2 separate regions of the Homo sapiens genome follow, and region 2 is linked to region 1. Evidence: fine-mapped expression QTL. A gene starts in region 1. The other region holds a variant in brackets. All regions are shown on one strand. Distances are between the middles of the regions. Region 1 holds the start of PHTF1 (putative homeodomain transcription factor 1). Region 2 overlaps MAGI3 (membrane associated guanylate kinase, WW and PDZ domain containing 3).

The links. PIP is the estimated chance that this variant, and not a neighbour inherited with it, causes the effect. A credible set is the group of variants that fine-mapping cannot tell apart.
Region 2: its variant is the best candidate, but not a certain one, in a credible set for the expression of PHTF1 in monocytes after LPS (Fairfax 2014, PIP 0.78).

What each region holds. Positions count from the first base shown.
Region 1 is chr1:113,756,688-113,761,078 of GRCh38, reverse strand. PHTF1 (putative homeodomain transcription factor 1) reads left to right here and starts at 1,593. Exons shown (of 19, transcript NM_001323043.2): 1 at 1,593-2,056; 2 at 2,346-2,420; 3 at 3,324-3,380. The coding sequence starts at 2,376. RefSeq lists enhancers at 1,141-1,720, 3,999-4,391 and silencers at 1,871-2,190, 2,824-2,953.
Region 2 is chr1:113,679,831-113,684,221 of GRCh38, reverse strand. It overlaps MAGI3 (membrane associated guanylate kinase, WW and PDZ domain containing 3), which reads right to left. Exons shown (of 21, transcript NM_001142782.2): 20 at 2,886-3,024; 21 at 1-1,325. The coding sequence ends at 208. Among named protein-coding and RNA genes, the nearest start is that of PHTF1, 77 kb to the left of the region's middle. RefSeq lists an enhancer at 2,799-3,337. The variant T/AT (reference allele first, on the strand shown) is at 2,062.

The DNA.
Region 1 (4,391 bases):
ACTTCTTACCTGATTCAGTTCCTCCAGACACTCCCTGAAAATCTGTGTGCCAAACAGTGAAGTAAAGTACTTTTGCTATTAATGTAATTGAGGTTAAATATTTACGTGTGCAAAATTCGACGTTTTTCACTTGTCATTTATCTCTTTTTTCAAGTTGGCCATTTGTCTTGAAGCTCAACAGAATTGTAATGTTTAGCACTAAGGAAAGGAAAAGCTGTCAAGGAGCAAAAGCAGAAGGAAACCACTGCCAATGTGTGCAATATAAAAATAAGGGTAAAATAATTTTTACTTTATTTGAGACAGGTCTCTGTTGCCTAGGCCGAAGTGCAGTGGTGCAATCATAGCTCACTACAGCCTCGAACTCGTGGACTCAGACGATCCTCCTGCCTCAGTCTTCGAAGTAGCTGGGACTACAGGTGCGCGCCACCACCCCCGGCTAATTTTTTTTTTTTAAGAGACGGGGTCTGGCCATGTTGCTAAGGCTGGTCTCAAACTCCTGTGCTCAAGCTACATTTCCGCCTCAGGCCTCCCAAAGCGCCCAGATTGCAGGCGTGAGCCACTGCGCCCAGGCTGGGTGAAGTAATTTGTAAAACTTAGTCCTGTGGGAGTTATTTTAGCTTAGTCGATTTTCCTCATCCGTGAAATGGGATAACTTCCACCTGGTGCCCACTCAATAGATAAGAAGAAATAATGTCTGCAAAACATTGAGTACAGCGCCTCTTAGGCTTTCTTAAGTGAAGCTATCATCTGTCATTAGCTTTCTCTGACCCAGATGCTACACGCTGTGGGCTAGCAAGAACACGGCTTCAAATAAGGTGGGGAGAATGGCTGTAAGGGGACAGTGTTCCATTAATGGCCAAAAAAAAAAAAAAAAAAAAAGCAGCCTAAAAATCCTTTTAACGTATCCTTAAATATTCACTTGAGGGTTCAACCTTTCTTTCCTTTCTCCTGACCTCTATCGGCCCTAATTAACCTGTTCCTGCCGCCACCTAACTTTACCCTAATTTGGAAAAAGCTGTGACTGCCCAATACTTGTTCCTCTTTTCCCCCTACACCTTTGAGCACTAGAAAGCTCCAGACCCAGAGCTGCTGAGGGGCGGGAGAGGAAGGGAGTCACTAAGCCGCAGCCTGGCCCTTCCTCCCAGGGCAGCGTAAATTCACGCAAACATTGATTCGTTCGCTCAACAAACATTGGGAACCTAAGTGCCAGGCTTGTGCCAGGCCCCAGTCTCTGACCTCATGGAGCCCACAGCCCACTGGGGAACAGAGATTAAGCCATGAAACACGAAAATGAGTGCCACAAAGACGTGAGCTACTAGAGTATCAGGACCGACCTCCTTTAGACCGCTGGATGGGAGAGTCGTTTGTGAGGAAGTGACTTTTAAGCTGAGGCCTGAAGGGTGATCTGAGGGAGCTGCTCTTGGCCATCGATATGCCGCGCGACTCCCCAGGCCCTCGGACCCGGAGCCTGGACCAAGGCTGGGCGGGAAGGCCCCGGGCCAGGGGCGGAGCCACCTCGGCGGCGAAAGCCGGAAAGCGGAAGCCGAAGGCTGCTGCCCGGTGGTCGGCTGAGCGGCTCTAGCCCAGATCTCAGACGGCTGAGTCACTGCATCCCGGCGCGGCCCGCAGAAGACGAGCGCCGCTGCCGCCGCCTCCTCCTCCCGGGCTCCCGGGCTCTCGGGGTCCGGGGCCTTTGCACCTGTCTTTTCCAGCTGGGCACAAAGCCTTTTGCTGTCGCCGTGGCGACTGGAGGCCTTCACTTTTAATCCCCCTCATTTTCCAGTTCATTCTCTGCTTATTTTCTGGTCAGTCCGTGACCCTGTAGGCGGCCTCTGACCGGCGATCGATTTGCCGCCCTCAGGGCGCTGGGCGGCCGGCTGCCTCCGAAGCTGGGGCGGCCTCCGCGGTCTCCATGGTAACGGCCTCTCCGGCGTCTCCGCCTGGAGGGGAAGATGCGGCCTGCCTGGCCCGCCGCCTCGCCCCCGGCCTCACGGTGGGACCCCGGGCACTGAGGACGGAGGTCCCGGGCGCCGGCCCGCGGGGCAACGGGCACTAGGTGAGAGCCGGACGCGGGCGAGCGAAGGAGGCGGGTGCCGGGCGACTCCAGCGGCGGCCCCTGCCCCTCCCCCGCACCCACGAACACGCTCGCCCGATATATTGCAGAGGCTTCTCCGGTCGCCGCTGCGCCAGTTTTTTTTTGTTTGTTTGTTGTGTTTTCCCTGGCAAACAGCTGGAGAAAGAGCAGCTCATGGAGAGGCTGAGAGAAGCGGTTTTCGCGTCCTACCCAAACTGGGAGAGTAACCTTCAGCAGCTGGACTCACCGATTGGTTTTCCTTCATTTTCAGTGAAATCCCATTCTCTGGCTGGAGACACAGATGGCCTCAAATGAGAGAGATGCTATATCGTGGTACCAAAAGAAGGTAATACATATATATATTTTTTTTATTTGTAAAGCATTCTTCCTGCAAAAAGCTCCCACAAATAATATAATGTTACTTTCCCCCGAGTTTAGTAGTGCCAGGTGTTCATGTATACTTCAACATAAATGAAAAAAAAAAAAAAAAGATGTACAAGGTCATTATGTCTTTTAAACCCGGTTCCAGGTCCCAGAATAAGGTTTACAAGCCACCTCCTTCAGGCTGCATACACAATGCCACCGCAATGCTTTGAAAGTTTGCTTCTGATCAAACTGCTTAAAAACAAAAAAGACATGAAACCTGTATGTGCACAGCTCAGATTGATACTATCAACAATCTTATTGAGCTGTTCCTTATCTTTTATTCCTCTCTAGTTTTTCTAGTGCTCTTTTCCTTAAGAAGTGGATTTTTTTTTTTTTTTTTTTTTTTTGAGACGGAGTTTCGCTCTTGTTGCCCAGGCTGGAGGGCGATGGCGCGACCTCGGCTCACTGCAAGCTCCGCCTCCCGGGCTCAGCCTCTGGAGTAGCTGGGATCACAGGCGCCCACCACCACGCCCGGCTAATTTTTTGTATTTTTAGTAGGGACGGGGTTTCACCATGTTGGTCAGGCTGGTCTCAAACTACAGGCGTGAGCCACCATGCCCGCCCAAGAAGTGGAAATATCTTTTAAGGTAATATTAATTTGAAATATTTTGGGCATTGCTTTTGAACTTACTTTTAGGTCCAGCTATTTTAGATTTTTGAAGGAAACAGTCCTTCGAAGTATTGATTTATTCTAACTTTTGAGAAGCATATTTTCCACATAGCATATTGATACTTAATAGGCTCATGACTTTTATGAGGCTTGACTTAATAATGTAAGGATTTCCTTTGCATCGTTTAACTAATAGACTACTCCCTCTTTCAGATTGGAGCCTACGATCAGCAGATATGGGAAAAGTCAATCGAACAGACTCAGATTAAGGTAAATTGATTTCTTTGATTCCGCCTATGTTTCACTGCATTAATATGAAGAGTGGAATTGTACTTACCTGGTAAACTCTGCATTTAACTACCAGTATGGCATTCTTTAATCTTTGAAGGTTATAAGAAAAGCAGTGCAAGCATAATGAGAAGTGACACTTGATTTTTGGCCTCACTATCAGGAAAACAGAAAGGAGTGAGTTGTTCTATGATGAATTAGAGAGCAAATGTCCCATATAAATAGGGCTGGGGTTACTTAGCTCTGGCTAGTTTTTACCACTTGGCAGTGCAGGTCCAAATATTGCCAGAGTTTCAGATTTTTCAAGAGAAGCTGGAAATACACATTTTTATATGAAATATATTGTGCATTTTGTGTCGGATTTTTAAGAGACTCTTCCTTCTCTTCCTCCTCCTCCTTTGCAAGCCAAATAAAATCCATTTGTGGCCTGAATCCAGCCTATGGTCCCCCATTTTATTCAATCACTGGCTTAGAGTATGTGTTTTTGTTTGTTTTTTTGTTTTGTTTTGTTTTTGAGACAGAGTCTCACTCTGTCGTCCAGGCTGGAGTGCAGTGGCGTGATCTTGGCCCACTGCAAGCTCCGCCTCCTGGGTTCACGCCATTTTCCTGCCTCAACCTCCAGAGTAGCTGGGACTACAGGCGCCCACCACCACGCCCGGCTAATTTTTTGTATTTTTAGTAGAGACGGGGTTTCACTGTGTTAGCCAGGATGGTCTCGATCTCCTGACCTTGTGATCTGCTCACCTCCGACTCCCAAAGTGCTGGGATTACAGGCGTGAGCCACCGCGCCCGGCCTAGAGTATGGTTTTAAGTTTTTCAGGTTCTTAAACTTTTTTCTACACAGCTCTTAGAACTGAGAGGATTCTTATTTTATACTAACCAAGTGACCAAAAACTGTTATATAATTCAGAATGCCAGTTTATTAACTTATAATAGGGGAGGAGAGGGTTAAATTATCTTCTGATATTCCAAAGTCAGAGTTGTGGGGTTAAG
Region 2 (4,391 bases), 77 kb after region 1:
CTGAGAGCGAGGGAGGGCAGCCGGCCAGGGGGACAGTTGGTTCTTAGCAATCCTAAAGGCCCTTCATGCAGCCTAGGTAACTTGAGGCTCACATTAACATGTACTTATCTGTTTCAGAATATCTGAAAAAAAAAAAAAGGCTTTTTCTGGAAAAATGCTGCTGTAAGAAAAGATTACAACTTGTTTTTCTTTGTTTTATACTAAAGGTTACTGCCGTTTCTCAGCCATACCAATAGTGCCTGTGACTTTATTTCCACTTGGAACCTTCCAGGGCCCTGGAGTTATCAGTGTTTTCTTAACTGGAGAACTGCTTTCCGGTTTGAACCTTCCAGTCTCTTTGTTTTTGTCAGCTGCCTCTAGTTCTTTCCCTTTGTGATCTTCTGTTTTGTTTGAAACTACCTTCTCTTCAGGTTCTTGCTTCAGCCTCTTTTCTGATAGCTGGACATTTTCTCCTATTTTATCGTTACTAGAACTTGTTTCTCCTGTGGTTACTTTCTTTCCTTTTTCATTTTCAGATACTTCTTTACTTGTAGTCTTATTAGTCATTTTGGATGGAAGAGATTTCTCAACCATTCTTTTGATTTTTTTCTCTGGAGACCTTGTTCTGCTTTTTTCCAACTGATTCTGCTTTGCATCTTTCCTGATGACGTCTGATTTTTCCTTCCCATCTGGGATCTGCTCAGCATTACTGCCCGTATAGCCTGCTATTCTTCGACTCTTACCCTCTAATAATTTGGCCTCAGCATTTGATGGAGCTTTGCTTCCTTCAATTTTTTGCTGCTTTTTTGGGCTGGCCGACCGACCTCTGCTTTTTCTGCACTGATCTTGTCCAGAGCCTGCCCTGGTGCTGACCTGACAACTTTTATTTTCCCCTTTGCTGGGGCTGAGGGATTGATCTCTGGGTCTTCTTTTGGGGTTATTTTTTAGAGGACTAGGAATCTTATCCAAATGTTCCTCTGAATGTTGACTGGCTGGCTTTTTGGGACTAACCGATCTACCTCTTCGTGTAACACCATTTTCTACTTTTAATAGATTTTTCTTGTTACTGTGCCCATGACTGCTGGGTGGATCCCTCTTACTCACATTTTTCTGGAGAAGAGACTGATGCTTTATCTCAGGCTGATTTTCATTTAAAGTGCTTTTCTTTTCAGGCACAATGTCCTTTAATTCTTCTGCCTTTTCACATATCTGAACTCTCAAAGATTCTTCAATTACTGGCACGTGAGACTCTTCAAATATGGAAGCAAAATGTGAAGATGGGGGTAATGGTGACTGTTCATCATAAATCACATTTGAAGACGAAGGATTATTAATATCCCAATCACCTAAAAAAGTGATTTGAATGGAACATTATTAAATTTTAGAATTACAAATAGGAACAATACGTTTTGAACTTTGACAGCCATTTGAATTGTCGTAACTGCTTAAAAAGCCTGAGTATTTTATACAGTTTGTATATGTTTACAACATATCTCTCTATAAAGGCGGATGTGTACAGACATCTGTTCATACATGAAGGATGGGTTGTTTATATACACAAAATAATATTCATTTTTTCCAATTACATATAATTAGTGAGATAATATATGATCTGTAAATTCTCTATTAGTAAAGCCCAATTAGAACTTACAAGTTATAAAGCTGAACCAAATTACGTGGCCCAAGAAGCTCACTAATTATTATGAATTGATACAGTTTAGGATATGGCAAAATCACTAATTAATAAAGGAAACCAAACTGTGGTAACCAGAATGAGGCTCATGGGCATTTGTAATAATTCTCTTGCATTAAGCTGTCAAATTTAATGTCAAAAGAAGACTGAAAAGTGCAGAAGATAGAAATAGATGTATTTAATAGCATCATTTTTAATTTAAAAGAAAACAAAAGAAGAAAGTGATTTACAAGACATGCAAATTTACCAAGTCTTTTTAAGGAAAGACCAAGAAAAGCCCTGAAAGCCTTAATGTTGCTCGGGTTTCACGTAGGAGCACAGACCGGAAGGAGCCAAACCTGAAGAGGGAAGAGAAAAAGCCTAGGACTATGTGAAAAAAAAAAAAAAAA[T/AT]CAGTGCAGTTAGCAAAGATGTCACTGGGAACATATGATTTACAAGCAGATGGTGGAAGATAATACAGTCAGAGAATCATAAGCTGGAAGGGTACTGTAGGAGGTTATGTCTACACTTATCCCTCAAAAGCGGTGGGGTGGGGTGGGGTAGGGCAGGAGGTGGGGAGCTAGATGAGGCAAGTACTGCGTGGGTGTGGTACTGCCTTTATTTCTAGAATAGTGCACTCAAAAAACAGTGACTTTCAAATACCATGATATTTCAAAACATGCCATGGAAACCCAGGAAGTTTAACATTAATACAGGACAGAAATGGTCTCAGGTCCAACTCCCTGTCTCCAGGTAGGGTGATAGCAACTTGTTTTTGCCGAGTCACCAGAAAAGCCTAAGTTTTCATGCTGCGCATTCATTATAATATAAACTTATCTTGCTTTACAGAAATAAAAATATTGGTTGGTAATGTGTAATTAGCTAAGTAAGAGAAAAAGCTGGGATATTTTGAAGAGATTTAAAACATTTTTTATGGTATTTAAATTGTTTGCCTCTAATACACTTTTTTAATAGGTACATTTCTCTACAAAAACAACTATATGTTTTTTCTGATTAAATTTAAAATACATTCCATTCCAACGAAAGTCCTGCCTAAGTCACTTGTTTTCTAATACTATTTATGATAACTCTGCTATGTAACTAGCTTTTCATGGTTCTAGCATTCACCTCTGAATTAACTAGTAAAATATCTATCCTCTCCAAATATATATTCCTTTTTCTTCTGTCCCCTCCCTAATATACAACTTTTCAGCTACTAGTGGGCTACTTTACTTACCATGGTCAGGTATCAAGCCAGTTCCTGGCCTCAAAAGAAGAAGAACTTTATTTCCACCAGCCTGAATGAGCTCAATTGCTCGAGTATGTGTGATTCCTTGTGTAGGTTCCCCATTGATTTCAACAATCTGGTCACCAACCTAGACAGAGAACATTCACAGGAACAACATGAAACTATGCATCCTTTGTAAATTCTGCTTTTGTCAGCTCTTGAGCCATTCAACCTTGCTAAGTGATTCTTTCGTTTGTAAAATACCTAACGTGTACCCAGTACTGCCATGTGAGAGTTGATGAGAGGACAGATGACAACAAACAACAGGAAGTGGCAATGTTCAGGTTTACTCACAAAAATCCTACACAGGAAAGTTTTATATGGCTACTAACTAAGATCTGGACATCTTGAAATCAAGAATCAAATTCTAGAATCAGATTTGGAATTTTCTAAATTTATAGAAATCAAATTTAGAATGTTAATCAAATTCTAGAATTTGGTTCTTGATTTGAAGATGCCCAGATCTTTAATAGCCATATAAAACTTTCCTGTGTAGGATTTTTTGTTTGTTTGTTTTGTTTTGCTTTTTGAGACGGAGTCTTGCTCTGTCGCCCAGGCTGGAGTGCAGTGGCGAGACCTCGGCTCACTGCAAGCTCCGCCTCCTGGGTTCACGCCATTCTACTACCTCAGCCTCCCGAGTAGTTGGGACTACAGGCGCCCGCCACCACGCCCGGCTAATTTTTTGTATTTTTAGTAGAGATGGGGTTTCACCGTGTTAGCCAGGATGGTCTCGATCTCCTGACCTCGTGATCCGCCCGCCTCAGCCTCCTAAAGTGCTGGGATTACAGGCGTGAGCCACCGCGCCCGGCCCTGTGTAGGATTTTCATAAGTAAACCTGGGCACTTGCTGTGTAGGGTTTTTATGCGTGAGTAAACCTGGACATTGTCTCTTCCTGTTGCTGCCATCTGTCCTCTTATCAACTCTCGCAGGAGAGCACTGGGTACATGTTAGACATTTTACAAACAACAATCCAAATGATACTACAGAGCTATGTCCGAATGTGAAGGGTACTTTCAAACTTGAGCTGAATTTTAAATATATCTCCTAAAACCTGGGCAGAGGGCTCTTATCTTTGAAGCCTTTCCTGGCCTCCAGGGAGAACTGCTCATTCCTTTGAACTGCTGCTATGTCCTGTACATACATGAGGTATTTGAATAAATGACATCTTTATAGATTAAAATTCTTAAAAACTTAAACTTGGAGAATAGATTAATATGAACACTTATTTAAAACCAGTAACTGGCATAAACTTAGTGATGTTAGTGTAAAATCATTTCTCAGGGCCAGGGATGGTGGCTCACACCTGTAATCCCAGCTCTCTGGGAGGCTGAGGCTGGTGGATCACCTGAGGTCGGGAGTTCGAGACCAGCCTGACCAACATGGAGAAACCCGGTCTCTACTAAAAATACAAAATTGGCCAGGTGTGGTGGCGCATGCCTGTAATCCCAGCTACTT